3 linked regions of the Homo sapiens genome follow. The protein of the gene in region 3 interacts with the protein of the main gene of each other region in a biochemical or structural test. Each region holds a gene or a part of one and is shown on either strand. Other genes may lie near its edges.

Region 1 (7,906 bases), on a different chromosome or scaffold from region 3:
CACAGGGAGGGGAACATCACACACCAGTGGGGGGCTAGGGGAGGGATACCATTAGGAGAAATATCTAATGTAGATCACGGGTTGATGGGCGCAGCACACCACCATGGCACGTGTATACCTATGTAACAAACCTGCACATTCTGTACATGTACCCCAGAACTTAAATTAAAAAAAAAAAGATATTCGTCAAATCAGTAGTTAATGGGGACTGATGTCAATGTATAGCTTTACCTCCAACTAAGAGGAGGTTGTGAAGATACAGGAAAATAGTAATGAGAGACATAAAGATACTTGCTATGTGGCAATAAAAACTGTACTTTTATTAAAAAGTAAAATCTACTGTGGAATAATTTTAGATTTACAGAAAAGTCAAAAGGATATAGAGTTCCTTTACTCTCTTCAGCCAGGTACCTCTAACGTAGTATAGCCATGGTACATTGGTCAAAACCAAAAAATTAACAATGATGTGGTACTATTAACTAGACTTAGAGTTCTGCAGATTCTCAGTAATGCCCTTTTTCTATGAAGGATGCAATCGGAGATATCACATTAAGTTCAGTCATCATGCCTCCTTAGCCTCCTCTGCTCTGTGATAATTATTCAGTCTCTTTCTGTGACAGTGACACTTTAAAAAATCCTCTCAGAAATTTTGTGGAATGTCCCTGAATTTGCGTTTGATGTTTTGTCATAATTAGACTATGTGTTTTTAAGAAAATCAGGGAGCTTTGAGATGTACACTTCTCAAAGTATCATATCAGATAATACATGTTATATCAACATGACTTTTCACTGGTGATGTTAACCTTGATTACTTGGTTAAAGTAGTGCTTGCCAGATTTCAACAATGTAAAGTTATTTTCTTCTCTGTCTGTACTCTATTCCTTGAAAGCAAGTCATTAAGTCTAACTCATCCTTCCAGGGGAGGAGAACTAAGCTCATGCATCAGAGGGCATAGTAGCTACCAATATTATTTGGGATTCTTCTATAGGAAAGATGTGCTCCTTCTCCCCCATTTATTTTTCAACCATTTTATTTATATTAGTATGGATTCATGGATATTTACTTTATTCTTTGTGCTGTAATCTAATGCTATCATCACTTATTTAGTTGCTCAAATTATTCCAGTTTTGGCTACTGGCAGCTAAGTGATTTTATATAAATCACTGAATCCTCCAGCAATCCAGTGAGGCAGGTACTGTTAGCCTTAGTTTACAGAAAAGGCATCTTAGGCTAAGAGAAAGTAAGAAACCTTCTCAATGACATCTTATTTGTGGCAAAGCCAGGATTTATACCTAGTAGTCTGACTCCAGAGTCTGTGTGTTTAGTTTGGCTATGCTATGCTGCTCTCTCAGGGAAAGAATTGCTTCACAAATGTCAATCAGAGGTAAGGCATTGAATCACTTCTTCTTAGACAGTATGTACAGAAAGAGCCACAAATGGTCAAAACTAAGCCTGCTGCCAGGTGGGAGGAGGAAAGAGTGGTTAACAAAGGAAAGAAAAGGGATAATAGGAGCTTACAGGACAACTAATGTCATGGAAGGGAAGAAAAAAGTTCATTGAAAGTGTAATCAGTTTGGTTGCAGGGCCATAGAAAATGAGCCTATGGTAAGAAGTTTAGTGAACCGCAACACTGCAATATAATGGAAGGATGGAAAACAAAACCAGATCTCAGGAGATCAAAACTGTTGTTACAAAGGAAGAAGGTAAAGAAGTAATTTAATAGAGAAGAAAGTGCAGGTTCAAGTAATTTTTTTCCAGGATGGAGGAGGACCTATTCACAGGAAATCCTACAGAGAAGGAGAGCCTCTCAGAAAGCAGGTGTCGAAGCTGTGTGCATGAGAACGAGAGAGGACGGGGGCTAACCCTGGAGTTCAGGAAACTCTCCTCCTCACATACTGGAGGTAAGTCCAAGGATAGAGGAATTGCTGAGGTGAAGGTACAAACTTAGGATGATATCCTTGATTTTATTAGTAAAAACGGAAGCAAGGTCATCTGCAGACAGTGAAAGAAATGAGAGATGTCATCCAGCCCTGTCAGTGGCCAACATCCCTGGGTCGGTGTTTGGTAGAGCTGGTGAAATTGGACAAGCTAGAGTCATTCATGGTGACAGAAATCACCTAAGCGCAAGCAGAGATGCACTCAGGTTATCAGGATTTTTACTTGATTTTTTTCAGATCAAATAGTTAAAACTAAATATTTTATGTAATTCTTAAAGACTCAGGATTAGTCTAAAATGTTCAGAATTAAGTATGATGCTAACTTATGATATGCTAGTTGAGAAAAATGCCTAATTGTAAAGAACAAATATAAAACTAATAGAAAAATAACTGTCACAAGAATGAAAACATTTTCTCAGGAATTCTTCTTCAATCAATTCTAATTGCAGGGTTTTCCATGAATGTTCAACAGTTATGAATTTAAGGCCAAAGGCTTCTGTATCATTTATACTTATTAAACAGAAATACTAAGTTTGGGCAATGGTTTTTCTAAACTAAGCACAAAATACAGCTAACAAGGGTTATTTCGAATTTCTTCAGAAATATTCTTAAAATATTAAAATAGGATTTTGGATTTTAATCTAAGACACACTACTACACTGATAACACAGGGCTTTAAAAAAGTTCATTTCAGAAGCATTTTAATTTATGAAGCTACTGAGAGTGTTTTTTATATCCAGATAAAGGTCAGACATTGGGGGGCAAAATTGTATAAGAAGTTTATGAATTACTGACTTAACATATCCCTAAGTATTGTAGATTGCCCTCATCTAACATAGTTATAATACTACAGAATAAATAATTTCCTTTACGTGGACCAGAAAGAATTTACATTAAAACATATTATTCATATTTGTTATTTTATTATATATTATTGTATACAACTTTGATAATGAGGATATTATAAATCATACTTTAAGCAAAAATCTATGCATGATATATGTAAGCAGTAACATTTTGAAGAAAAAAGCCATGAAAGCATTTACCTAAAATTTAGTAACATCGAAAAACACTAGTTTGTGCATAGTAATGTTGAAAGCTTCATAATACACTAGAATACTGGTAAGTCTTCAGGTATTGTAAGAAAAACCTGGTACAGGAAAAGACTAAATTAGACACATCCATATCCTTAGATGTGCACATCATCTAGAAATAAATCCCACAATGTAGCAGTGCACTAAGTATCCTTTGTTTGGCACTTAACAATACAGACAAACGTGTATTTGGTTTAACGTGATTTTATTATTCTTAGATACATTTTAGTTATTTTATATAGATAAAAATATACAATATTGCTTTTCAAACTTTTAATTTTATAACTGTATAACTGATTGTCATCATATTCATGATTAAAAAGCCTATTTTCCACTAAACAATTTATCCAGTAACATGTGGAAGAGAGTAACAAAAATGGTTTATGTAAGACTTATAATAAAAGGTTTAAATGTAAAAATAGAGTATTAATCTAGACCTCTGGTCTAAATCCTTAGATACCTCATGCTGGAAACAAATTATGAAATGTTTCAGACAAATTTTTTCCAACACTTAAATTGATTCTACAGGTTTAAAGTTTTGACTGAAAATACACAGAACTCAGAGATATTTTGTCCGAAGCCATTTTTATATACATTAACTTACTAAAAAAAGTAAAAGAAATAAAAATTGTATTTTTTTTTTTTTTGGAGACGGAGTCTCGGTCTATTGCCAGGCTGGAGTGCAGTGGGGCGATCTTGGCTCTGCAACCTCCGATTCCCAGGTTCAGGCTATTCTCCTGCCTCAGCCTCCTGAGTAGCTAGGACTACAGGCTCACGCCACCATGCCCAGCTAATTTCTGTATTTTTAGTAGAGACAGGGTTTCACCATGTTGGTCAGGATGGTCTCCATCTCTTGACCTCGTGATCCACCCTCCTCGCCCTCCCCAAGTGCTGGGATTACAGGCGTGAGCCACTGCACCCGGCCAAAAATTGTATTTTAATACATCTCAGTTTGGGATTCCATCAGATTTTCAAATAATACATGCAAAATGTGTCTAAGCTCTTCAGCTCTCATATCTAAAGAAAAGAAGAGCTGAATGCAGTGGCTCACGCCTGTAATCCCAGCACTTTGGGAGGCCAAGGTGGGAGGCTCACCTGAGGTCAGGAGTTTGAGACCAGTCTGGCCAACATGGTGAAACCCGTTTCTACTAAAAATACAAAAATTAGCTGGGCATGGTGGCACATGCCTGTAATCCCAGCAACTCGGGAGGCTGAGGCAAGAGAATCACTTGAACCCAGGAGGTAGAGGTTGCAGTGAGCCAAGATTGTGCCACTGCACTCCAGTTTGGGCGGCAGAGTAAGACTCTCTCTCAAAAAAAAAAAAAAAAAAGAATAAAAGATGGTGTCATTTTTTCTTTTAAACCATGTTAGGACAGTAAAGTTGGTAGGGTGATTAATTTGCCTATTGGTAATGAAGATCAGTATATCATTAAAAAAACCTAAAGTTTGAAGGTAAACGAACTATGTGGTTGTCTTTTTATTAATACCAACTTTAAGCAGTTGGATTCATTACTTGATTTCTTAGAAAGACACATTGATAAAGTATGTAAAGCCCCAACAAATTAAGTGCATATATAAGGTATGGACTTTTTAAAATGAAAAACTGCAAATATCTTACAAATAATTTTGTTCATTATATCTATACAATGCACCATTCAATTCACTCATTACAATACTTTGCACCAAACCTTGCTATCTGCAATCTTAACACTCCTCAAATATGAGAAAAACACATAGTTTCCACTGTTCTAAGAAGCGAAATTTATAAAGTCAACACAATATATTATCAAGGATTATAGGTCTAAAACAGTTTTTAAAGACAATTTATACACATTGAAATGGGTGCTTTGCTTAATTAAAAAGCTAGAAATAAAGCTTCTTGCAATTTAATAAACAAGGTTGCAGTTAACAGCAGATTTTTCACATTGCAACATTCAACTATCATCATGGAGATATCAATAAAGGTAAAGAGTGGTATATTTATTTCTTCTGAAAACACTGTTGAGGAATTTAAGTGCTATTGTCTTAATATTTTTATAATAATTAAGAAATAATTTGGAAAGACATTTTACTTTTAAATTTTTTCAACATAAGGCACATAGCAACATTTATAGTCTAGAAACAACTAAATTATGTAATAAATAATTATTTTTTCGATCATTATTTGCCCTTTACCTGAAGAAAGTAGGTAAGCAGTGGAGTTAAAATATGCCTGAATTAATGAAAATGGTTGGATTTAGGAAACACAAATAATATTTGTGTGCAGAAAGATATTAATTTAAAAAAGAAAAAGAATACTTTATATAAAATATACATCCTAGAGTGTTATAGGTAGAAAAAAATGTGAGGCACTTAGATGAAACAGTGAAGGAGGAAAGCACTGAGATTATCTTTTTATAAAAAGCACCAAACCATTTATTTTAACATCTGAGATAAAAGCAGAGGTTAACATGATAGGAAAAACTAGTTTAGTTCTCTAACTTTGTATTTGGGGAACTAATAAGAATCCAGTAGCTCAAAACTCAAAGTATTTTATTTTTACTGTGACAGAAATAATTCAAATAGAGAATATTTTCTAATTTAAAAGAATCTTAGTTTCCCTGATAAAGTTTTGTATATTTTGTGGTGCCCAGAATAATGTGAAATGTAGACGGTACCTCACCACTCCGTGGCAGCACCCTTTCTATCTTGACTGTAGTATATGTAATTTTGATACCATTTTTAAACTCCCTTTTCTAAAAGCAAAAATTAAAATTTGGTTTGGAATAATTGTGAATAGCATGCATCAATGCCTCCATGTGAACTTGCTGACGTCCAACAGTGACAGTTTTATTTTTCCATAATCCTTCACAAACTAATTTAATCCAAAAACCAGGGTCAAAATTGGGCTTGGAATTACAGGAATCCACTGGATGTCAAATCAGGAAAAGGTCTGGCTTCTGACGGATGATGAAGTGGCTGAAGATGTGTGGTAGTCTGAGTGTTATTTATGTTATTTAATTCAGCTGGATATGTTTCATTTAAAACTCCATTCTGAAACTGAAAACAAAAATGGTGATGCAACTTATTGGAATAGATCTTCCAAGTATCTTAAGCCAGTAAATAACATTAACATGTATTTTTAAAATCTTACCCCTGAGAGTTGTAAACTTCAAGTTCCTTTACTGTTGCTAAATTTTAAATCTTTCACACAGTGAAGACATACTGAGGACATATTATGTATTAGTTGCATTTATAACCTGTTTTTCCATTAATTTGACAGGAAATTTTGAACATGGTACAGATGAGTGATGCAGCTGTCTCATTTCAGATTGCCTTTGGGTCAGGTAGGAATTGATGGGTCAAACAGCACAAGTCACAAATTACAGTTAAATATTCTCTATCATAAGTAGGTTTGCTTTGACCAGGTTTGAAGTTATAGGTATCAATGAATTGATTATATTCAGGAATCTTACACTGGAATGCAAAACTTTTCCAAAAAAGGCAGCTTCTGATTTTCTAAATGTTTCTAAATATTCCTAAAATATTACACCACAGGTATGATTTTCTTAACCGATTTCTTATTCATAATATACTTTTAATTAATGAATACTACTGAAAGCATAGTTCTAATTACAGAATCAAGTTACCAAAAGAAAATGCTCTGTCTTGTTTTCTTACACTGCAATGAATCTGGTTTCTATAACTGCTAGTAGAAAAAAGAAAAATAAAAAGGAAGGACATGAAGATGTATAGCTCTGTAGAGTTTTATAGATTACAGAGCCTTTATATTTTAGTTAGTGGACGTTCTGGAAACTTTAAAACAGATTAAAATCATATCCTTAATTGCTTCAAATAAAATCTACCTTTGTAAAGCCTACATAACTGGCTTCAGTAATCAAAATGTTAATTACTTCACAGATCCTCCAAAACATATATAAAATCTATAGTAAAAATCATATAACCTGTATCTTCAATGAATGGCAACACTGTAAATTCTTTAAATAAAAAGTTAGTATTACCTGGCCAGATAATGGTGAGTTTAAAATGATTTTTTCTCATTACTCATAACACAATTCATGTCACCATTCTCTTTAAACATACTGTACACAGCAGTGTAATCCAATAGAAATATAATGTGAGCCACATACAGAACTTAAATTTTTGGCTACAGTAGATTAAATAAAATACATTTCTAAAGTTAATTTTACCTGTTTCTTTTTACTTTTGTAATGCGGCTACTGAAAAAACTAATCATTTCAACATGAAATCAATAATAAAAGATGAGATATTTTACATTCTTTTTTCAAGCCAAGTCTTCAAAATCCAAAAATCCAATGTGTACTTCACACAGCACATCTCAATTTGGACTAGCCACATTTCAAGTGCTGAACAGCTACTCAGTGGCTCAATATTGAGTGTCTTAGCTCAATAACATGTACTCTGGAACATATGTAGGTCTATAGAATTATTTGGTTATTTACAAAGAAGCAGTGAAAAGTAGTGAGGGGAAAACACTGCAAAGAACTTATGTGGTACTCATGCAACTCCTTATTCAAAATGTAATTTTACAGAATTAACTTCTGTACAATTTGCTTTACTCAAGAGTAAAATATACTTTCATAGCAATTTTGTGAGACGGACTATAACTGAATATTATTCAATTTTAATATAATTGAAGGATGTAAGGAATAAGAAAAATTTTCACTGTCCTTTTCTATTAAAAAGCTCATATACGATTAGACAAGCAAAATGTATGAAAAAGCCAGAAAATACAATTAAAGATAAAGCTTCAGGTCATACTTTTAATTATTATACTCTAATACAGAGTAAACAGGGGTCAAGGAGCTTAATTTTAGTCAAGATATTCTTTAAAACTAAACTTAAATATACTTT
Region 2 (12,307 bases), on a different chromosome or scaffold from region 3:
TTATACCCTCAACAGAGAGGGTTCTGCTTACCTGCTTATGAAAACCAATTCGATACCATGTTAGCCTTTAAGGAGTAAACTAAAGGATTCACTTTAATAACTCCAGTATCAACAAAGAAAAAGCTGTCCTTGCTTAAACCAAAAATTCAAGATTGCTACTATATAGTATGTTTCAGTGCACATATCAAGTCTACAAGTCTCACACTTCTGACCCTTGTCTTCAAGTCCCTAAACTGGAATAAAACTAGATAAATGCCTGAGGAACCACTTCACACCCTAAACACGTGCAAACTTTGTTCAACAGAACATTTTACTGCCAAAATGGAGTTGGCAGAAGTTTGGAGCAAAGGCCCCCAGGCTGCATGATTTGTTGGCACCAGACAGCTTAAAAATCTTAACATAATACTGCAGAGTTTGAGTACTACCAATTTGCTTGAGACTCCTCCTCCAAGTTTGACTTGAGATAGATGGAAGACGCCATAAAGAAAGACTATTAACACTTCATCCTCTATCCAGAAATGCTTTTATTTCTCACTCCTGATTGTCATACCTCTATATTCCTTGGTGGTTGTATTTACACGGTAAATCAAATGGAGTCTATTTTGAAATGCATATAAATTCAATTGTATTGTGTTGCTTGGATAAAGGGACACAGGGAGAACTACTATAAATACATAAAATTAATTATGACAAAGTTCTACTTAGAAAACACTTGATCCAAATAACCCCCATATATCACAATTTTTTACCCTAAAAATGTGGGAGAAATTAAGATACAGAATTACCTGTAAATTGCTACCATTTTACATTTGGTTCAGCTTGTCTTCTCACTTCTGTAAGTCTGAATGACGGTAGTTTATCTTGTATGTGAACAATTTAGGAAAGCCAGGAAAGAAGCCAAGTAGAGTTCTCTTCAACAAGGGTCAACAATAAAGTCTTGGAAATCTTCATAAGCTTGATGCTGTTAATTAGGAAAAACTGCATCGGAATTTTTAAATTACAGTTGAGTACAAGCAACTATATAACTAGCAACTTCGAACCTGTAAATGCTTGATAAATATGCAGTACTGAGAAAGGATGGTTTGCTTTGGAAGGTTATCTTGTCCTATGTTTCAATAAAAGACAAGGTTTAAAGAGATGCTACTTGCTCCTCATACACCTAAAAAACTTTTTTCTTGAAACTTTCTAATGTTTTCCCTCCGTAGCTCCATGTATTTTATTAATGTGTCTGATAGCCTTTGTTTTTCCTCCTCTAGAACCTCCAAGTTTTCTAATTCTCAGCTATGATTTTAGATCATTAAATCACCAGTTTCTAATCTCCACAATACAGTTGGAAACATTTAGGACAGAATATCCTTTAGGATATTAAGATGCAGAAGACTGTACTTCGAAGGATATTTATATAGTAGTGCTGCCACCTAAAGATGAGGTGAATATAAAGAAGCAATTCAAAGGAAATGACCCATCACCCTTAAGCCAGTCTCATTTTCTCACCTCCAGCTAGGAATTAATAAGCGTGTTGCTGTTGTTGTTGTCATTAACAGGGAAGTTGAACTGTTTCGCAATCACTTATTTCTGAGCTTTAATCCTCTGTGCCAGATAATTTCAGACTCAAACCTTTTCTAGTCCTCTGCGATTCTTCTCAGCCATCAGGCACTGCCTACAATACGTAAGAGGCAGCAAAAGATACTTGGAAAAAAACAATTGAGAGATTTCTGGTTTAGTGAATAAAGCAGGCAATAATAGACCTTAGAGTTTTCCCTTTATCAGTGATAGACTCCTCACAATGCTGAACAACTGACTTACATTTTGATAACTAAATTTTCATCTGTAAAATGGGAGTAATTATACCTTAGTCCTACTTGCCTCGCAGGCTCAACTAGATATGCTTCTGGGAAAGATTCTCTAACAAGTGAGTTTAAAAGTCTACCACTGCCTAACAAAGAGGGATTTTGTGGTATATTTGCAAAGTAACTTCAAAACAAAATAGTTAAATAGGTTGAGGCAATGATTAAGTTTTCCTAAATCACAGTTTGACTTCTCGGAGGTCTATTTAAATAATGATAAAGATGATAAATGCAGTTTTTATTTTGCTGCAGTTATTAGCTGATCCACGTTCCATCTACGTATTCAGTGTTGCAGGATGGAGACGTGACAGCGTAGAAAGCGAGCAAAAGCGTTACCGTGCACCAAAAATCTTGTCAAACTTGATACGATTTCAAGAAGACTGTCTTAAAGGACATTTTATAATTTCACATTTAGCCCTTGCATAGCATTTTATGAAAATTAACTTTTACCCTTTCCCCCTCGGCCCAAGGAAGTCGCATTCCCTCAAAGGGGCCCGGCTTCAACATATTACACTGCGTGGGAGGCTGGGCAGCAACCCCACGCTTCCTGTCAAGGATTCCTGGGGCCAGAGCCTGAAAAGTGCTCTAGCCACTCTTCTCTATGCTAATTCTGTCCTTCCGACCCCTCTTGGCGGGTGTCTGAGGGCCAAGGTGAGACTTTCCCCGGAGATGAAAGGCCTATTGCCTCTTCAGAGACCCGGGCGGAGTTGGGGCGGGGGTGCCGCGTGATAGGGTGGTAGCAGAAGTCGCAACGACGCACAGGGCCCTAAGTTGGAGCTGGCGCAGGCCCTTCAGGGTTCTATCCCCGCCAGAGCCTGGCTTCGGCCTTCAGAAGCCAAACGAGTAATAGGTCCTTCTGGGGCGCTGTGGGCGGTGGGTGGAGGAAGTGTGGGCGGAGAGGCCACAGACATCCCCCTCCTCAGACGCGCCCCAAGGCCTGGCCCGCGGAATGTTGACGCGCCAGGAGCCGATAGGGCGCGCTCACGCGCGAGAAGGGGGCGGAAAGAGCGCGCTCGGCGGCCGCCGCGGCGGCAGCTAAAACGGAGGGACGCGAGAGCGAAGGGCGCGAGCCACGGAGTTGGGAGGAGGGGTGGGGAACGCGGAGCGCGCGCTGACGTCGCCTGGAGTCACGCACGGAGCGCCGGGTTACGCGCCGACGTCTGGCTGCCACGACTTGCCGTCTGCGGCGGCGGCGGCGGCGGCGAGCGGATCCCGCAGGGGAAGGAGGAGGAGGAGGGAGAGCCAAGGGGGCTGTGAGTGAGCGGGAGAAGCAGGGTGTGAGCCGGACTTGCCCATGGGAGGGAGAGCGAGCGAGAGCCGAGCCAGCCATCCGAGCCGCCTCCTCCTCCTCCCCTCGGCGTCCCGCCCCCGCCCGCCAGCCCGCCCTCCTTCCTCCTCAGCCCGCAGAGCCTAAGTGAGGCGCAGCTCGGCTAGCGCCGCTGTCCAGGACAGGTGTGCGCGCGCGCGCCCTCCTCCCCTCCCCCCTTCCTCGCGCCTGTCTCGCGCGCGCCCTCCCTCCCGCCAGCCTGCGCCCTCCCTCACCTGCGGCAGGACAGCGCCCGCCCGCCCGGGTAAGCCCCTCGCGACCTTCCCTGCTGCCACTGCCACAGCTCCAGGTGACGCTCGCCCCGTCCCCTTTACTTGCTCTCTCAGCCCAGGAATAATTATAGTACCATTGCAGACATCCCCGCACCCTCCCTCTTGGAGACCCAGGCGGTGCAGCAACGTTCTCTCCCACCCCCCGCAGCGAGAAACGAATGAACCCCCTCCTACTTTCAAAAGAGAACAAAATAACACGCCCCTTAAGAAAAGAGGCGATCCTACCTCCGCAGGCGCTGGAGACCACCAGTGATGCGTTTGCTTAGCAATCCCTGAGCCCCATTTCCCCTGGCCGCCTTCGCCCTGGGGCCTGGGACTGTGCGCTAGACGTGGCTGACACTCCCTGCACGGCAACCCTGGAAGGAGGGAGAGGAAGGAGAGTTCTATAACCCAGGCTTCACTGCCAACCCCTCCTCTGTTCGGTTCCCCCCACCCCACTACCACCAAATGCATACACCCGCCCAGGATGCGTTGTAAAAACAAAACAAAACCAGGAAAAAAAAAAAAAAAACCTTTGGTGCTGACATCGCAGATGAAGCCGGGCCCAAAGATGGGTGGCCCGAACAAGGCATTTTTACTGCCCCACAGCGCTGGGTCAGCTCCACAGCTCCTCTGCCTTTGTCCGAGGGCAAAAGGAACGGATGTGAAGCTGAGGGGTCTTCTCTGTGAGCGGCGGTGGGCCCCGGAGGCGGGCTGTGATGTTTGTAGGGGAAGGCACCCAACCAATATATCTGCCATAAACCTGAACTTGGGTTGGAGAGCCCCCAGAGACTGGCTGGGGTAACTGGTTCGTAGCTGTCTACCCCGGAATAAATGCCACCTTCTTTTCCGCGGTGTCTGCGGGACCCTCTGTTGGGGGTTCTAATTCGTTTTGGCCTGGGCTCCTTACATTTCTGTCCGGCCAGGCGCTTTTGGACAGCTTTTCGCAGCGGTGTCTAAGCTTGTGTTCGGTGTCCTTGGAAGGGAGGTCCCAGAGCTTTACAATAGGCTGGATTTGGTTTGACATCTTTTGGTGGACTGTCAAAGGGGAAAGGAAATTTTTGGATTACTTCAAGATCCCCCACCGCCCCCGCCCAACTGACGTTTGCGAATTGCGGCTTTGGAAATTGGAGTGTTGACTAGAGTGTGGAGAGAGAGTTGCTGATTTCATTGCTTTGAGTACTAGTAAAACCATTTAAGTATCAGCCGGAAGGGAGACAGCTATTGACATTTACATCGGTTCTGTTTGGACCTTTGGGGTACATAAAATGTCGGGTTCTCTGAATTTTTTATCGAATTTAGAATGTCTGCTACATTTATTTAACTTCTGCAAATGCTTAAAATGAAAACATTTTGGAAATGCGAGGATTTTTATCAAGTGGATTGTTCTCTTCATATATTAAATGTTTACTTCATATCTTTAATCCGAAACATTAAAATAGCATTGAAGAGGCATGATTTTCAAGATTAAGTGAGCTATGGAAAAGGAATACGCTTTTAAAGAACGATCTGGGAAATGCTGTTACTATTAGTCATTGTTGTTGTTAAATGTTAAGATTTATTTGAGAGTTTCTCAATTTTTTTGGTAGACAGTCATGAGAAGAAATGGCTAATTCCTCCACTTTGAACATTTACAGTACAACATCCCAGTTAGTTTTAATGATTTGGGTATTGAAGATAGTTGTCTGGTTTAAGACTGGTATTTAATCTAAGTATCACTTGAAAACACAAGCTCTAATGTTCTTTATTTTGGAAATTTGTGATTTTGTAAAATATTAATCAACATATTGTTTCTATTAGGAACTCTATAATCAGAAGGGTTTACTACCCAGAGGTAGACAACCTCTTTCCAAGTCTATTTTATAAATGTGTGTTGATTTTTACTTTATAAAACCAAAACTGAATTAGATTATTTCAGAATCACCTGTAGTCAGGCTGAAGAAAATTAAAGCTTTTTTCTTTTTTGTTCTGCCTAATGTGTATTTCTTTGCGCACAATTTTTTGTTGGTAAGAGTTTGTTAAATACATAGAGACAGTGGGATTAAAAATAAAGCAGTCTCTATTCTCTTTAAAATGTGTCTGTTGTATTAATAATAAAAGGGCTCAAGAAATCTAGAGACATTATGTCTTTGTAAGCATATTGTGAGGAGAAAGGAAATGTTTACTTTTTGATGTTTTTCATTAACATGGATTTTTGCTGCATATTAATTTGCTGTATATTTCGTTTTCCCTTTGTCTTTCCTACATTCTAATGAAATTATACATTTAGTTTTACAACTATTTGTTTTACATTAACAAATTCAAACAGCTGGATACTAGAACAGACTTCATTCACCAAGTTAGTATATTGTTTAGATTATTAACAAATGGTTAGAAGTCTTAAAATCCACTTATTTTCTAATGACTTTTCAGTGTTACAATGCAAATATAACTGTGAAGTTTTATTTAAAGTTTAAACTTTTTGTTTTAAGACTTCTGGAAGTTTATATTCATTTCTCCCAGATTGCCTTTTAAGGCTACTGTACACTATAGCCCAAAGAAAGCTGCCTTTCACCTCCTTAGTCTGAGAAAAAGCCCACACTTAAAGGCTTATTCTGAAATTAACTCTCGTTTCAGTAGTGAAAATATGCTAAAAATCCTATTTATCATTGAATTATTTTGGAAAGGCATTGTTAATCTTGTTTGCTTTTTAGATACACATATAAAGTAGAGAAGCTGGCAAATAAGGGCAAAAGTTTTATACATATATAATGAATAGCATAAAACAAGTACATATTTATGTGGAGAGATCTAGGTCCCAGTAATTTGCTGATTTGACCTTAAAATTCCCAGTTTAAGTGTACAAATGAGATTCAACTTGTGTTCTGTCTGGAAACTTCATCAGTTGCCTCTGCGCTGGGTAACTAAGAAGTCAGTTCTTGGTGGCAGTCACTTTTTCAGAAAAACAGGGCACTTCCAAACTCAAATCATTCGGAATCCCTGTATATAGACGTCTAGGACGGAGGGCAAGAAAATTTAGACTGCAAGTCGGGATAGGAAGGCGGGAAGTTGGGATACGAAGGCGGGAAGTTGGGATAGGAAGGCGGGGCAGTTTCGAGTCTTAGTCTTCTGTCCTGGGGGCAGCAATCAGCACGGAAGAAAGGCAGGGACTGGCAGGGGGGGTGGGTGGGGCCCTCATCGTATTCTCATTGGCCTTGTTGCTGCCTTGAGTTTTCATTAGGGAGCAGGGGCTTGGTTTGACGCAAGGTAAACTCTTGAGGAAGAGCAGCAGCCCTTCTAGATCGGATTGTACCAGATCTTAGCCTCAGTTTACAAGTGAAACATAATGTCCCACTCCATTCTCTGTGGAGAGCCTGCTACTGAGCCTTTTTGTCCCTGGAGGCGCTGGGGTCTATCCAGAGTCCTGATTGCTACTGTTCGAGCCTGGAGGAGTTACTGCTTCTTCACACGTGTATTTCTGTGCAGTTCAAAGTGCTTCAAAAGTTCCTGTGTCCCCTTCTCAATAGACTTTGGGACAGGGGAAGGAGTGCAGAAAAAATCAACACGGAAAGAGTACTACAGGGTACTAGAGGTTGCCTCCCAAATAAGGGGAAGTTCTTTATGGGGCCCAAAGTCTGGGTTTTTATCTCTTGGTGTGGAGCCTTCCCTTCAGAGAGCCATTTCAGGGACCACTGGACATAGGTGGGTGGTTCTGAGACGGGTGCACAGGACAGCGCCTGTTTGCTCCTTGGTGGCCAGGTGCTTCTTGTTTCTTTTCAGTAGGAAGTCGCAAACTTCAGCCCAGGGCTGAAGTAGCTAATGCTGAGTAGAATGGGGCTCTTTCTAAGAGAAAAAGGAAGCTGTGAATACCTAGCAGGCAAGTTTGTTCAGGAGGTGAAGAGATATGGTAAGGGGGGCTTTGAGGGTTCAGGAATCAGCAAGGCTTATTCCCTAGCCTGCTCTTGGTTTCTTGATCGTTAGTCCACTCTTTTCTAGGAAGCTGGGCAATCATATTCCCAGTTGTCCCTCGGGCTAAGAGTGAGGGAGGCAAGTCTCCTTACTTTTGGGGGAAGCGGGAGATGCTCAATGGGAATAGAACCCACAAATGGAATAGGTATACTTTTCTCAGGATAGAGGCAACGATCTGTGCTTGAGAAAGCCAGGGGCAGAGCTGTGTGATCTGTGTCTCTCAGCTGCCTGTAGAAGGTGATGGGGGAGAGAGTGGGCGCATTGGCAGGGGGGGGTCCCCTGGAGATAGGCCTTAGCTTTCCCCAGAGTGCCAGGGCTGCAGACTGCAGTGAGAGAGTACAAGCACTCAATACCTATCTGGAAATAAGCCCTAGGTTATACGTCAGGTCTAGTAAAAGAGAAATCAGGTATCTCTGAGCTCCTCTACTCCTGAGCCCCTAATACCAGAGAAGATCCTTTTTAGCTATCACCGTCCAAAGACTCACTGGTTAATTAATGGTCAGCAACTTAGCTGTCTGCATAAAAACCAGCGACCACTTAATATGTTACTTTTGGGAGTGGGATCTCTCCTTGACACAAGTTTCTGGGAAGAGTAAAAGGGGCAAGCGAACCTGCTTTAATGAATCCCGTAAGGAACTGCGTTTCCCAGGAAATTCCTGACATTTTTAGCTCATGAATTTCCGAAAGCCTGCTTGGTTTTCTCCTCCATTCTGGGTCCTTCCAGAAAGGAAGAAGAGTGGGCTAGGGTCTGAATGCTCACAGGGCCTGGTTCATCCGCAGAGCTGGCCAGCAACTCAGGCTGGGCTCAGCCCTGAGCAGGGTGCCCCCCTTCCCCAAATCTCAGAAGGAGGAGGGGGAGGCGGGCGGGCAGGCAGTCAGTCGTGGTCCCAAGGGGGACTGGCTGCAGGTTTTTGGGTGAGTGTGGAGTTTCTTTTTGATTGTTGCATGTGGGGAAGGGCAGAGTCGACGGGAACAGTCACTGCGGGCACCCTAGCCCTGGTGCGTCTACTGTCCTCTGCTCGGCTCCCCCCATCGGTGAGTGCGCCCGCCCGCCCGACTGTGCGGGGCTGCGGTTGGGGGGAGGGGGGAGCGGGATCATCTGAGGCCAGAGCCACTGCCGTGTGTGCGGGGAGGGGGAGCGGCGGGAGAGAGAGGGGAGGGACAGGCTAGGTGTCTGCTGCTCCACGCCACTGCTGCCGGCGCCCCGACCTCATCCCCAGCAGCCCCCTCTGCAGCTAAGGGTTACCACCGCACCACCTCTCTTCTTTGCCTGCCTCAGCGGCCAAGGCTCTGCGGTAGGAGACAACCCAGCCGGGTGGCGGGTGGGCCTGTCTAGGTTTGGGTTTGGGTCTTGCTGAGGCCCGCATGAGAGGGGGTGGCCGTGACTCGGTGTCCCCTCTTTGCAGGGGGCTCTGCTGCGCCGCGCAGGCCCCTCCTCCTACATCCTCTTTGGGGGGTCACTGGAAAGCAGAGCTTAGGCCCACTCTCTGTGCTTAGTATGGCAGACTCCTTCTCACCCCTAGTCCCCTAACTCCCCAGGCCGAGGCCGCCTAGGGTCTGCCCAACAGCGACAGCCACGGTGGTGGTGGTGGTGGTGGTGGTGGTAGCAGTGGTGGCGGCAGCAGCGGCAGCAGCAGCTGCGACGCTGCGCGTCCTGCTCCCTCTCCCCCACCCAGCCAGGGTTGTAGGGTGAGGGCCGGTGGGTGGGCGCCGCCTGGCGGGCGGGCGGACGGGGGGCTGGCAGCGGGGAGGGGGCGCAGGTCACGTGCCGGCGGGCGGGTGGGCGCGTACAGTAGGGCGCCCTGCTACTGTACTGGGGAGTCAGTGCCCTGTTACCGGGTCTCGTCTGTCTCGTCTCTCCCGCAGATCTCGCGAGAGTGGCTGACTGGCTGTGGGGGTTGCGGCGGCAGCAGGCGGAGCCGGGGAGGGAAAGCAGCGGCGGCTGAGGCGACTGAGGCGGCGGGCGGAGCGGCAGGCGGCGGCGGCGCGGCAGCGGAGCGCAGCATCATGGCGGACCGAGACAGCGGCAGCGAGCAGGGTGGTGCGGCGCTGGGTTCGGGCGGCTCCCTGGGGCACCCCGGCTCGGGCTCAGGCTCCGGCGGGGGCGGTGGTGGCGGCGGGGGCGGCGGCGGCAGTGGCGGCGGCGGCGGCGGGGCCCCAGGGGGGCTGCAGCACGAGACGCAGGAGCTGGCCTCCAAGCGGGTGGACATCCAGAACAAGCGCTTCTACCTGGACGTGAAGCAGAACGCCAAGGGCCGCTTCCTGAAGATCGCCGAGGTGGGCGCGGGCGGCAACAAGAGCCGCCTTACTCTCTCCATGTCAGTGGCCGTGGAGTTCCGCGACTACCTGGGCGACTTCATCGAGCACTACGCGCAGCTGGGCCCCAGCCAGCCGCCGGACCTGGCCCAGGCGCAGGACGAGCCGCGCCGGGCGCTCAAAAGCGAGTTCCTGGTGCGCGAGAACCGCAAGTACTACATGGATCTCAAGGAGAACCAGCGCGGCCGCTTCCTGCGCATCCGCCAGACGGTCAACCGGGGGCCTGGCCTGGGCTCCACGCAGGGCCAGACCATTGCGCTGCCCGCGCAGGGGCTCATCGAGTTCCGTGACGCTCTGGCCAAGCTCATCGACGACTACGGAGTGGAGGAGGAGCCGGCCGAGCTGCCCGAGGGCACCTCCTTGACTGTGGACAACAAGCGCTTCTTCTTCGATGTGGGCTCCAACAAGTACGGCGTGTTTATGCGAGTGAGCGAGGTGAAGCCCACCTATCGCAACTCCATCACCGTGCCCTACAAGGTGTGGGCCAAGTTCGGACACACCTTCTGCAAGTACTCGGAGGAGATGAAGAAGATTCAAGAGAAGCAGAGGGAGAAGCGGGCTGCCTGTGAGCAGCTTCACCAGCAGCAACAGCAGCAGCAGGAGGAGACCGCCGCTGCCACCCTGCTACTGCAGGGTGAGGAAGAAGGGGAAGAAGATTGATCAAACTGAATGAAACCCCCACACACACACACATGCATACACACACACACACAGCCACACACACAGAAAATATACTGTAAAGAAAGAGAGAAAATAAAAAGTTAAAAAGTTAAAAAAAAAAAAAAACCTGTTAACTCCAAGGGAGCACCACCCACAGAACCTCCACCAACTGACAGTTTCTCTTCTTGACTTGCCACCCATCGCTGGATGTTGTCCACTTTATCCACCATATAAAACAGTAAGCAGCTGCTAAAAACAAAAAAAATACAAAAAGTAATAACATTATATGAACTGTGTTTCCTACTTGATTAAAAAATATAAAGAACTGAGTGTTTATTTCCCTAATTAACCAAGAACTTTTGTACACGTTTAAGCTATTATTATTAAAAAGTGTTTGCAAAATGGTCAAGATTATAATATTGCTGAATTATATAAAAGTCCTTTTCATGTTGAGCTAACATTTGACTTTAGCACAAAAAAGAGATATTTTAGAACACGTAAAATAATATTTTTAGTTTTTCTCATTTTGTTACCAAATTTCAAACCTTACATGGAGGTTATTATAGTATATTTGACACCCTATATACCTGTGATTAGAGATGTGTATATATATGAGGGCTAGGCATGCTGTGTGTCTGAGCTTTGTCTAAATGTTATGCAGAAGTTTGTAGAGTTAAAGGTACGTAGGTTTAATTCATGCAAGGTAAACAATAAGTGCTCTCTTTTATACAATATGCATTGCATCTGGACCTTAAACTTATAAAAATGGTCAGTGAAACTTCTGTGAACATGAAGAAATTATTAAAAAAGGCATTTAAATGAAATTTGCTAAGTTGTGATTTTTATGGTTGGAACCAAAGTTATTCAAATAGTAAAAGGAAAAAGAAAGAAAAAGGAGATCTCCCATAATATTTTTCTGCATCTGTTTGCTTTGACTGAGTAGGCGTTTTGTCATTATTGTGTATATGAGATGTACTTGTATCGTTCATAATATATTTTTTTTATTATGTGTAGAAAGATTTTAAAAAACTAACGTGCAGCAATTTCCAGTGAACCTGTACTTGGACATCAGGTAGTGAGTCTATTTGTGGTCACTAGCACTGTCTCCTAAACTTGTAAGAGGTCTGAAGCTATTCTTTGATTTTTGCTAGTGCTATTAACTTATGTAGACCTGTTAAAAAGCAGAGCAACACAATTATAGTTATCCTACTGAGCCATGGATTCTGAGTTTTGTTTTAAAAGTGAAAGCCAAGTTGGTGTATGTAAAGGATTTCCATGTAGCTGTGGTGCTAGTTATTACTGGCTACATTATATGCTAAGTGTATTTGTGTTCCCCAAGTGTACAAGCCTTCTATCAAAAGTATGTTCTATAACTCATATATTCAAGGTGTAGGGTATGAAAATGCAAAGTTTAGGAGAGCACTTTACCAAGCTGGTGTCCTCCAAACTGAAATTGTTTGTAACGATAGTCTTTTACAGGTTTTCCTTTAAAGATGTTTGTGTGCTTTTAATTGACAACTAACTTCTTGCTGCTGTATAGTAAAATATTAATATATTTTTATCATTAAACTGCTGCATGACTATCATCTTTGAGTGAAGAGAAAATGTTATAAAAAAGATGCCTTAAACAGTACATTTTGGTTTGGAATTCTGTAGAAAGTATTTTGGTAAAAAAAAAAAAAAAAAAAAAGGGTCTTGTCTGACAGAGAGTTCTGGGGATGGAATTGTTTCTTGGCAAATCCAGCCATATAGATCTAACTGCTGTATGTATAAGACACCACCTGTAGGAGCGGGAAGGTATCAGTGCTTCTTATATTGTAAAGCATTGGCCTAGGAAGGCAAACAGTTGTCTTTTTGAAGGATTTTTTTCTGCTGGTCCTTTGGGTTTTGATTTGATATTTTTATGCTCCCTGGTTGAGTGTGTTGTCTTCGTTTTTGAGATCTACTGTATGTGTTGA
Region 3 (11,910 bases):
TCTAAACTTTTTAAAATTCTTTTTTCTATATTTTAAAATAATTTTTAAAAAACAGAGACAGGGTCTCATTGTGTTACGCAGGCTGATCTTGAACTTTGGGCTCAAGTGATTCTCCTGCTTTGGCCTCCCAAAGTGCTCTAAACTTTATGTCCTAATGCCTAAATTATTATTTAAGTTAACTTTTATTTTATTTTTTGAGACAGTATGGCTCTGTTGCCCAGGCTGGAGTACAGTGGCATGATCTTGGCTCACTTCAACCCCTGCCTTCTGGGTTCAGGCAATTCTCCCGAGTAGGTGGGACTACCCTACTACAAGACTCCTGAGTGGTGGTGTGTGCCACCACGCCCGGCTAATTTTTGTGTTTTTAGTAGAGACGGGGTTTCACCATGTTGGCCGGGCTGGTCTTGAATTCCTGACTTCAAGTGATCCGCTACCTCGGCCTCCCAAAGTGCTGGGATTACAGGCGTGAGCCACAACACCCAGCCTGAATTAACTTTTAATGTATCCCATCCTTTTCTCCTAGTTTTACCTACCATCAGATTACTCCTTCTAAATATTACTTTGTTTTAAAAATTTATTTTTATTAATTATCATGGGTACATAATAGTTATATACATTTATCATAAACATTTCTTAAACGATATTTTTCAAAATCTTTAGTGTCACTCTTGTTAAGAATCTTGGCTGGGTGAGGTGACTCACACCTGTAATCCTAGGACTTTGGGAGGCAGAGACAGAATTACTTGAGCCCAGGAGTTTGAGCAGCCTGGACAATGTAGGGAGACCCCATCTCTATTAAAAATAAAAATAAATTAACTGGGTGTGGTGGCGTGTGCCTGTGATCCCAGCTACTTCGAAGGCTGAGATGGGAATATCTCCTGAGCCCAGGAGGTTGAGTGGAACTGTGATTTTGACGCCACTGCACTGCAGCTGGGTGACAGAGTGAGATGCTGTCTCAAAAAAAAAAAAAAAAGAAAGAAAAAAAATCTAGTGTTCCACATCCGATTATCTAATGTATTTAACTACTCAGTTTAGTATTGAAAATGTGCTTTACGCCTAGATCACCATACCTTTGTTCATATCCATTTTTCTCTGATCCTGTTTTGTTTATCCTAAAGTCTGAGGAATATATATGTAGTATGCTTCATATTCATCTGAAACAAATGTGAAGGAAAAGAATCACTGTGTTTACTTAAAACAGTTTTTTCCGTATGTGTATGGAGATGGAGTCTCTCTCACTATGTTGCCCAGGCTGGTCTCGGACTCCTGGGCTCAAGTGATCCCCCGCCTCTGCTTCCCAAAGTGCTGAGATTATAGGCTTGAACCACTGTGTCTGGCCTAAAAAAATTTTGTTTTAAATTATTTTTGTCTCCTATGGTCTTGTCTGAAATCAATACTATGAGTTGAATTTGTGGAGAAAAACTTACTCTAGAAAAGTATAGCATAGGTGACATCAGGGTTACAAATAAGTATTAGAATATCAGTTCTAGTCAGTAAAATGAAATATATATTTAAATTCTGTAAAATTATTTATGTATTTCTTTGACTCCTGGTGAAATACAGCTCTTAGCATTACTATCTTTGAGTCACTGAAATGTTCTTAATATTCAAGAAAAGTTCTATTTCCTGAAGTTTCCAAGATCACCAGGCTACATTTATGTCATATTGCTTTAATCTTTTATAAAGTTTGTTATCTACTTTTATATTGACTTCAATTTTTCCCTCTTAATGCTTTCTATAAATAATGTCTTGCATATAATGCCATGCTTTGTATTTTTGAAAGGTTCGATATGTATAAGTAATTGAGATATAATTCACGTACAATGAAATTCGTTTGTTTAAATTATATAGTTCACTGGTTTTTAGTATATGCGCAAAATTGTGCAACCATCAGCACAGTCTAATTGCAGAACATTTACATCACCCCAGAAAACTCCTCACCTATTAGCAGTTATTCCTATACTCCTCTCCCCGCAGCTCCTGGCAACCACTAAACTTTTTCTCTATATGGATTTGCGTATTCTGGACATTTCAGTTTACTCCTTAAAAAATGTATTGAGTGATTTGATACAAACTTAATAAAGAATCTCACTTTAAATAGAAAACTGTCTGCTTACATCTAGTAGCTTCTCCCATAGACAGCTTTTAATGACAGTTTGTCAAAGAATTGGTATTTGGAAGTGGAGATGGATTAATGGGTAGGAGAGGGGAAGATGGTAGAAGCGGGGGGGCGGGAAAGGGTAAAGAGGTGACAAAGTTGAGGCAAGCAAATAACTTGATTTGAGACTTAGCTCCTCTTTAGATCTACCTTACTCTATGAATGAATAAATTGATAATAAATATGATTTATTTTCTCTCCATTCAGTCTGTGGCTCCAGCAGCCTTGTTTCTAGCAGCTAAAGTGGAGGAGCAGCCCAAAAAATTGGAACATGTCATCAAGGTAGCACATACTTGTCTCCATCCTCAGGAATCCCTTCCTGATACTAGAAGTGAGGTAGGAGATTAATTACACATCTGTTTTTCTTAATTTTTTTCCTTTCTTTTTTTTTCCCTACTCCCAAGCATGCCTGGATCTTTATGTATTTCAATGCAACTTAATTTTATAACTTCGATTTATTGAAGTTTAGATTGGTGTTGTTAAAAGAATATTTTAGTGTTTGTGTTTTTCTTAACAGTAAGAAAATCAGGCCAGGTATGGTGGCTCACCATACCTGTAATCCTAGCACTTTGGGAGGGTAAGGTGGGAGAATCACTTTAGGCCAGAAGTTTAAGACCAACCTGGACAACATAGCAAGACCCTGTCTCTATATTTAAAAAAAAGAAAAAAAAAAGCCAGATGTGGTGGCTCATGCCTGTAATCCCAGCACTTTGGGAGGCTGAGGCAGGAGAATTGCTTGAGTCCAGTTCGAGACAAGCTCTGGCAACAAAGTGAGACCCCATTTCTACAAAAAAAGAAAAACAACAACAACAACAACAACAAAAAACAACTGGGCATGCTGGCTCACATCTTTAGTCCCAGCTACTTGGGAGACTGAGGTGGGAGGGTTGCTTGAGCATGGGATGTTGAGGCTGCAGTGAGCCATGATCACACCACTGCAGGCAACAGTGCCAGGACTCTGTCTGAAAAACAAAACACATAAATTTTATGGCGAAAGTTTTGTATTTGTTGCAGTAAAATTTGAAAATACAGAAAAATTCAAGAATAAAATATCTCTCAGATATATTCTAGACCAATGGTCCCAGACCTTTTTTGGCACCTGGGACTGGTTTCATGGGAGACAGTTTTTACATGGACAGGGGGTGGGGTTGGAGATGGTTTTGGGATGATTCAAGCACATTACATTTATTGTTCACTTTATTTCTATTATTGTTACATTGTTATACATAATGAAATAATTACGTAACTCACCATAACGTAGAATCAGTGGGAGCCCTGAGCATCTCTTTTTTTTTGAGACGGAATCTTGCTCTTGTCGCCAGGCTGGAGTGCAGTGGCGCAATCTCGGCTCACTGCAACCTCCACCTGCCGGTTTCAAGCGATTCTCCTGCCTCAGCCTCCTAAGTAGCTGGGACTACAGGTGTGCACCACCACACACAGCTAATTTTTGTATTTTTAGCAGAGACAGGGTTTCACCATGTTAGCCAGAATGGTCTCGATCTCTTGACCTTGTGATCTGCCCGCCTTGGCCTCCCACAGTGGTGGGATTACAGGCATGAGCCACTGTGCCCGGCCACCTTGAGGTGCTTTTCCTGCAACTAGATGGTCCCATCTGGGGGTGATGGGAGACAGTGACAGATCATCAGGCATTAGATTCTCATAAAGAGCAGCAAATTAGATCCCTTGCATGGGCAGTTCACCACAGGGTTCAAGTGCTCCTATAAGAATCTAATGCCACTGCTGATCAGACAAGAGGCAGTGCTCAGGTGGCAATATGTATGGTGGGGAGAGGCTATAAATACAGATGAAGCTTCACTCACTCGTACCTGCTGCTCAACTCCTGCTGTGTGGCCTAGTTCATAACAGGCCATGGACCCCCTGTTATATAGACAACTGAAGCACAGGTATACTAATGAACCACTGTTATTTGTGGCTTCTTTTCTATAGATAGCTATGTGTGCATGTATTTTGTCTCTGGTTTGTTTTCATTTGCTTACTATATCCCAAATATTTTCCCATCTGATGGATTCTCTACTTTTTAAAAATGTCTGGCTAGTATTTAATGATATATATGTGAATGTATGTATTTTTAACAATTCTCCATGAAGAAGTCTAGATAATTTCTAGCTTTTAAAATCACTATAAATGTTATGAAAAATATTCTTTTTTTTTTTTTTGGAGACAGGGTCTCATTCTGTTGCCCTGGCTGGAGTCCAGTAGTGTGATCATGGCTCACCGCGGCCTTGACCTTCCGGGCTCAGTGATCCCCCTGACCTCAGCATCCCGAGTAGCTGGGACTATAGGTGTGCGCCACCATGCCCAGCTAGTTTTTGTAGAGATGGGGTTTCACCATGTTGCCCAGGCTGCTCTCGACCTCCTGAGCTCAAGTAATTCGCCCACCTTGGCCTCCCAAGTGCTGGGATTACAGGCGTGAGCCACTGCACCTGGCTGAAAAATATTATTATACATTTTTATTATGGATCCTTAAATGAGTAGTTTCACTATTTTTTTTTTTTTTAACTTTTTTTTCGAGTTGGAGTTTTGCTCTTGTTGCCCAGGATTGAGTGCAATGGTGCAATCTCAGCCAACCGCAACCTCCCCCTCCTGGGTTCAAGCGATTTGCCTGCCTCAGCCTCCCGAGTAGCTGGGATTACAGGCATGTGCCACTACACCCGGCTAATTTTGTATTTTTAGTTGAAACGGGGTTTCTCCATGTTGGTCAGGCTGGTCTCGAACTCCTGACCTGAGGTTATCCACCTGCCTCAGCCTCCCAAAGTGCTGGGATTATAGGCGTGAGCCACCATGTCCAGCCAGCTTTGTTTTTTTTGAGACAGAATCTCGTTTTGTTGCCCAGGATAGAGTGCAGTGGCAAGATTGTAGCCAGGATGGTCTCGATCTCTTGACCTTGTGATCCGCCCGCCTTGGCCTCCCAAAGTGCTGGGATTACAGGTGTGAGCCACTGCACCCGGCCACCCTGAGCTTCTTTTCCTGCAACTAGATGGTCCCATCTACGGGTGATGGGAGACAGTGACAGATCATCAGGCATTAGATTCTCATAAAGAGCAGGTGATCATTTCACCTCAGCCTCCCAAGTTGCTAGGACTATAGCTGCGTGCCACCACTCCCAGTTAATTTTTATTTTTTTGTAGAGATAGGGGTCTTACCATGTTACCCAGGCTGGTCTTGAACTCTTGGCCTTCAAAGAATCCTCCCATACTGGCCTCCCAAAGTGTTAGAATTCCAGGTGTGAGCAACCATGCCTAGCTACATTTTTTTTTTCTTTTTTTGAGATGGAGTCTCGCTCTGTCACCCAGGCCGGAGTGCCGTGGTGCGATCTCAGCTCACTGCAACCTCCACCTCCCAGGTTCAAGAAATTCTCTGCCTCAGCCTCCTGAATAGCTGGGATTACTACCTGCATTCACTCTATGGAACAAGCCAAGGTTCACGCCCACCATCACACCCAGCTAATTTTTTAGTATTTTTAATAGAGACAGGGTTTCACCATATTGGCCAGGCTGATCTTGAACTCCTGACCTCGTGATACACCTGCTTTGGCCTCCCTAAGTGCTGGGATTACTGGCGTGAGCCACCGCACCCGGCCCATTCTTTATTTTTTAACTGTCTAAAAAATCCAGTGTATTTTATGGTTATAGCACGTTTCAATTTAGCTACATTTCAAGTGATGAATGGCTACATGTGGCTAGTGGCTATAGCTTTGGCTGGCACAAATCTGAGTGAATTTTCTTATTACCTTTTCCTTTGAACTCTTCTGTTACTTTTTAGAAACCTAACATGGCCCCAAAGGGGAAGTTCTAATAGGAGCCAAATGTTTGGTATTAAATGCTTACAGTACTGTAGGAAGGTTCTGCAAATGTATTTTGGTGATGTTGAAAAATATATACTTTATGGCCAGGCGCGGTGGCTCATGCCTGTAATCCTAGCAATTTGGGAGGCTGAGGCGGGTGGATCACCTGAGGTCAGGGGTTCAAGACCAGCTTTGCCAATATGGTGAAACCCCGTCTCTACTAAATATACAAAAACTAGCCGGGCGTGGTGGTGGGCTCCTGTAATCCCACCTACTCGGGAGGCTGAGGCAGGAGAATCGCTTGAACCTGGGAGGCAGAGGTTGCAGTGAGGCGAGGTCGCGCCACTGCACTCCAGCCTGAGCAGCAGAGCGAGACTCCCTCTCAAAAAAAAAGGCCGGGTGCGGTGGCTCACGCCTGTAATCCCAGCACTTTGGGAGGCCGAGGTGGGCGGATCATCTGAGGTTGGGGGTTTGAGACCAGCCTGACCAACATGGAGAAACCTCGTCTCTACTAAAAATACAAAATTAGCTGGGTGTGGTGGTGCATGCCTGTAATCCCAGCTACTCGGGAGGCTGAGGCAGGAGAATTGTTTGAACCGGGAGGCAGAGGTTGTGGTGAGCCGAGATTGTGCCATTGCACTCCAGCCTGGGCAACAAGAGCGAAACTCCAACTCAAAAAAAAAAGAAAAAAGAAAAGCAAAAAATACATACTTTTAATTTTCTTTTCTCTAAATCACATGAACCATAAAACTTAAATATTAACCTGAAAATGAACCAAATATATGGTGCTTTTTCTGTAGCCATATATAAACTGTTACCTCTCAGCATACTACTTATTTATTTATTTTTTAAAGAAAATGTGTACTGAATGGGCATAAGGGATAAAGATTGTATTTCACAAAAAAATTAGCCGGGCGTGGTGTTGCGCGCCTGGAATCTTAGCTACTTGGGAGGCTGAGGCAGGGGAATTGCTTGAACCAGGGAGGTGGAGGTTGCAGTGAGTCGAGATCACACCACTGCACTCCAGCCTGGGTGACAGAGGGAGACTCTGTCTAAAAAAAAAAAAAAAAAAAAAAAAAAAGATTGTATTTCAGTTCTTAACTCTACCTCCTAACTCCACTCATGCCTTTTATTGTTTTGGTTTCCCTGGAAGGGATTGTTAGAATTGTTTATACTTTATATATTGTGCCTTTGTAGGGAATAATTTCTGTCTTCTCACTTTTAGGCTTATTTGCAACAAGTTCAAGATCTGGTCATTTTAGAAAGCATAATTTTGCAGACTTTAGGTAAGTTTATTTTCCTTTGAAACATTTTTTTAAATTATGCAATAAAATGATTTGATTCTAAAAATTTGCTATATAGGAAGAATATTTCTTGGGAAAGTTTTTGTAGTGTCCCTCTGTTTCCAGATGATAGAGGTTGTAGACCTGAGTTTAGCTTTGACCTGTTCCATAGAGTGAATGCAGGTAGTACAGCTGACCTTTGAAACAGCAGCCAGTGGGTTATTATTTTTTTCATTCTAGGGTTATTTGCTTTTTAAGTTTTGGTGATTTTTACCCCCAAAAATTATAAAAACTATCTAAAGAATGTTTTTCCTTCCGTGGATTGTTATGGCCTGTAACAGCATTTGTTTTTAAAATTGGTAACTAGTGTTTAGAACAGCAGAGTGAAAGTGGGGGAACTTAAGCTTTAGTGGTTGCATGGGCAACTCTGATGATATTGTGTTATTATCTGTTATTTTCATCACACAGGCTGCCTTTAGAAGTTTAGAAAATATGAAAATACAGATTTTTTTTTTCCTGGTTCTTTTGGGCTATCATTTTTCTCTTCTAGGTAGGGTAAGATTTCATGAGTTGTACGTCAAAGTTATTGGCGTAGACACAATTTTTTTTGTACATATATATATATGATGAGTTCTTCAAAGTTTATCTCTCAATTTATTCTAGTTAACTTTTTTCTTTTTCTTTTTTTTTTTTTTTTGAGACGGAGTCTTGCTTTGTCGCCCAGGCTGGAGTGCAGTGGCACAATCTTGGCTCATTGCAACCTCCGCCTCCTGGGTGCACGCCATTCTCCTGCCTCAGCCTCCAGAGTAGCTGGGACTACAGGCGCCCGCCACCACGCCCAGCTAAATTTTTGTATTTTTAGTAGAGATAGGGTTTCACCGTGTTAGCCAGGATGGTCTTGATCTCCTGACCTTGTGATCCGCTCGCCTCGGCCTCCCAAAGTGCTGGGATTACAGGCTTGATCCACCGCGCCCAGCCTCTAGTTAACTTTTTTCTTAAAATATCTTCAAATTATATTTCATGGGACAATGATGTTTTTCTGGTGGAATAAATTTCTATTAATATTTTAGTGTGGAAACCAGTAAGGTGTAATTTACAATCAGTTATCCTTTTACAATAATTTGTAAAATGTAAACTTCTTAATAGTTTTTTAATCCATTACTTTTTCTTTTAAGGCTTTGAACTAACAATTGATCACCCACATACTCATGTAGTAAAGTGCACTCAACTTGTTCGAGGTAAGGAATCCCAGCTTATGAAGACTATCTCAAGCTGTTTTCCCATTTAGAGGTTGTGGTTTGTGGTGGACAATACATAATAGTTCTGCTTTGGCTAAATTTAAAGGCCTACTTGGCTTAAATCAAAATGAGTTGTTCTGACTTGATGTTTTTCTGTTGGGTTCTTACAAGTAATATTTTTAGATGATCTCTAGTTAAAGAGAACTAACCTCTTGAGAATGTTTGTCAAAGTTGGGCAGTTTGTGAAGTTATTTAACAGAAATTTTATGAAAGTTGTGAGGAGTGGGTGATCTTATTTTAATTCTGGGGTTGATTAAAGGCCACCTAGAGGATCATACAGAATTTATTTGGACTTTCCATGATATACAATCCCTTGGCAGAACTTTTCTTTTTAATTCTAATTTAACAATATTAGGTATAATTGAATGAAACTCTCTTATTTAGTTTAGTATCAAGAATATCTGAACACTATTGTGCCTTTAAGTGCCTTTTATGATTTTTAGGCCAAACTGATAATTGGTCTTATTTTACATTTTACTAATATGTGTTTCCTGTGAAAATTCCCAAATTTTCCTGAGTTCTTTATATTTGAAAGTATTAAAATGTTATATTGCACAAGGATAAGACTAGAGATGGGTGTATGTTAATATTGAGAAGACTATGTCCTGAGGAAGATAAAAATTTGCTTTGTCACCCAGAACAGTTTGTTTTGGAAGAAGTTAAATTTTTTCATTGTAATATATTACATTATTTGATGATTTGGGGATTAATTAATTAAATCTTAATTAGGGCTACTTAATTAAAAACTTTTTTTTTTTTTTGAGACGGAGTTTTGCTCTTGTTGCCCAGGGTGGAGTGCAGTAGCACGATCTCAGCTCACCACAACCTCCGCCTCCCGGGTTCAAGCGATTCTCCTGCCTCAGTCTTCCGAGTAGCTGGGATTACAGGCATGCGCCACCACCCCAGCTAATTTTTTATTTTTAGTAGAGACGGGGTTTCTCCATGTTGGTCAGGCTGGTCTTGAACTCTGGACCTCAGGTGATCCGCCCACCTCGGCGTCCCAAAGTGCTGGGATTACAGGCGTGAGCCACCGTGCCCAGCCTTAATTAAAAACTTTCTTAACAGCAAAAGTCACTTTTCCCAAATATGTCAAAGTCTTCTAGATTCTGATCTTGCTTCTAGATCATCTTAGTTCATCCTGTAGTTTAGTGATTCTCAGTGAATCCTTACATCAGAATCTCTGGGTTACTTGTTAAAAAATGCTTGCACCCTTCTCCAAACATTTAATTAAATTTTAGGGAGCAGGTCCAAGAATTGCATTTAAACAAGTACCTCAGATATGTGGTGTGCAGAATAAAGCTTGAGTACCTAGATCTGGAAGCAGCATAGTTATTAATGTTAAAATTAAAAATCATTGATCTGTCTACTTTGGCAGAATGTAAACGTCAGGTTTACAGGGACCATGTGTGTCTCATTTGCCACTATATTCACAGTACCTTGCAAATATTAAATGCTTACTAAATATTTGTTGAGAATGAATGGAACTAATAACTTTTTTCCTCCCCCACCCCTGACTTTTTTTTTTTTTCTTTAGCAAGCAAGGACTTAGCACAGACTTCTTACTTCATGGCAACCAACAGGTTTATATTTTAATTTTTTTTTCTCTTCGATTTTTGGTATAGGACTTTACTTGAGTTTGATACAGTGTGCTATAGATAATTCTCTGGTGAATGTTGATTTTTCTGCACAGTTTTCATGTTGTACTTTAAATTTCCATGGTACTTTTTAATTTTCTAAGGTTATGTAATTATTTAGTACTGATTTTTTTGATAACCTACTCAGTTCTGCATGATAGTGACTGAAAATCTAATTTGGAGTATTCTGCAATAATTATATGTGTATATATATATATATATATATATTTTTTTTTTTTTTTTTAAATTATTATTATTATTTTTTGAGACAGAGTCTTGCTCTGTTGCCCAGGCTGGAGTGCAGTGGCACAATATCAGCTCACTGCAAGCTCCACCTTCCAGGTTTACACCATTCTCCTGCCTCAGCCTCCCGAGTAGCTAGGACTACAGGTACCCGCCACCACGCCCAGCTAATTTTTGTGTTTTTAGTAGAGATGGGGTTTTACCTTGTTAACCAGGATGGTCTCGATCTCCTGACCTCGTGATCTGCCCACCTCAGCCTCCCAAAGTGCTGGGATTACAGGCATATATATATATATATATATATATTTTTTTTTTTTTAAGACAGAGTCTCACTCTGTCTACCAGGCTGGACTGAAGTGGTGCGATCTTGGCTCACTGCAACCTCTGCCTCCCGGGTTCAAGTGATTCTCCGGCCTCAGCCTCTTCACTAAGCTGGGATTATAGACTGGCGCCACCATGCCCCGCTAATTTTTTTGTATTTTCAGTAGAGATGGGGTTTCGCTATGTTGACTAGGCTGGTCTCAAACTCCTGGCCTCAAGTGATCCGCCTGCCTTGGCTTCCCAAAGTGCTGGGATTACAGGTGTAAACCACTGTGCCTGGCCAATAATTATATTTTAAAATATTCCTTTTTCTTCCCCCTCTATCAATCAATGGGCACTTATGGATGTTAAGAGTTTCAGTCTTTTTCCTTCTTCCCTTTTTAAAAAAAGTAAATGAGACTGGGCACAGTGGCTCATACCTGTAATCCCAGGCTGAGGCTGGTGGATCACTTGAGGCTAGGAGTTCGAGACCAACCTGGCCAACATGGTGAAACCACATCTTTACTAAAAAATACGAAAATTGGCAGGGCAAGGTGGCACATGCATGTAGTACCAGCTACTCGGGAGGCTGAGGCACGAGAATTGCTTGAACCCAGGAGGCAGAGGGTGCTGTGAGCCGAGATTGCCCCACTGCACTGCAGCCTGGGTGACAGAGAGAGAGACTCTGTCTAAAAAAAGTAAATGATTAGTACATAACTTGTATTACCAAATGACTTGCCCAACATTGTTAGTTAATGGAAACCAATGATATCCCTAGTAACTGTCAGGGCTAAGAAGTTCATTTTTATAGCCTGTTACGAAAAAGTTTTGAAATAAACCAACATATTTATACTTGAGAGAGTAGTTGTCTGTTTATTATTTTAAATAGACCAGAACTATGATTGGTGAGAGACAAATTATTTTTAAGATATTTCCTTAAGTTTTTGATTTACGGATTACACAGACCAAAAAGCTTACAATTTTCCTTAGGATCTGAGCTTAGTCTCAGGATAATAGGTAATAAATATTGACTTCTAGGCTTGAATACTGGCCCAGAAGTCAATGTTTTAAAGAACTTGAATTCCCAGCCTTTTTCCTTTTTTCCTTTTTTTTTTTTTTGGCTCTGGTCAATGTGTAGATTAAGTGATGTGTAATTCAAGAGTTTTTAAAATGTTGTTACCTGAACAGG

The links.
Region 1: the proteins of CCNT1 (region 3) and AHR form a complex in vitro, tested with the Homo sapiens proteins (one study listed by BioGRID).
Region 2: the proteins of CCNT1 (region 3) and PURA form a complex in vitro, tested with the Homo sapiens proteins (one study listed by BioGRID).

The regions. Positions count from the first base shown.
Region 1 is NC_000007.14:17,341,085-17,348,990, reverse strand, and holds the end of AHR (aryl hydrocarbon receptor), read right to left. Parts: intron 6,071-7,906; coding exon 5,927-6,070; 3' UTR 2,844-5,926; downstream 1-2,843. UniProt on the Homo sapiens protein: Ligand-activated transcription factor that enables cells to adapt to changing conditions by sensing compounds from the environment, diet, microbiome and cellular metabolism, and which plays important roles in development, immunity and cancer.
Region 2 is NC_000005.10:140,104,802-140,117,108, forward strand, and holds the start of PURA (transcriptional activator protein Pur-alpha), read left to right. Parts: upstream 1-9,307; 5' UTR 9,308-9,380; coding exon 9,381-10,349; 3' UTR 10,350-12,307. Other genes in the region: uncharacterized protein LOC124900193, read right to left, coding at 3,258-4,184. UniProt on the Homo sapiens protein: This is a probable transcription activator that specifically binds the purine-rich single strand of the PUR element located upstream of the MYC gene. May play a role in the initiation of DNA replication and in recombination.
Region 3 is NC_000012.12:48,696,352-48,708,261, reverse strand, and holds part of CCNT1 (cyclin-T1), read left to right. Parts: intron 1-2,365; coding exon 2,366-2,494; intron 2,495-7,188; coding exon 7,189-7,249; intron 7,250-8,421; coding exon 8,422-8,484; intron 8,485-10,078; coding exon 10,079-10,124; intron 10,125-11,910. UniProt on the Homo sapiens protein: Regulatory subunit of the cyclin-dependent kinase pair (CDK9/cyclin-T1) complex, also called positive transcription elongation factor B (P-TEFb), which facilitates the transition from abortive to productive elongation by phosphorylating the CTD (C-terminal domain) of the large subunit of RNA polymerase II (RNA Pol II).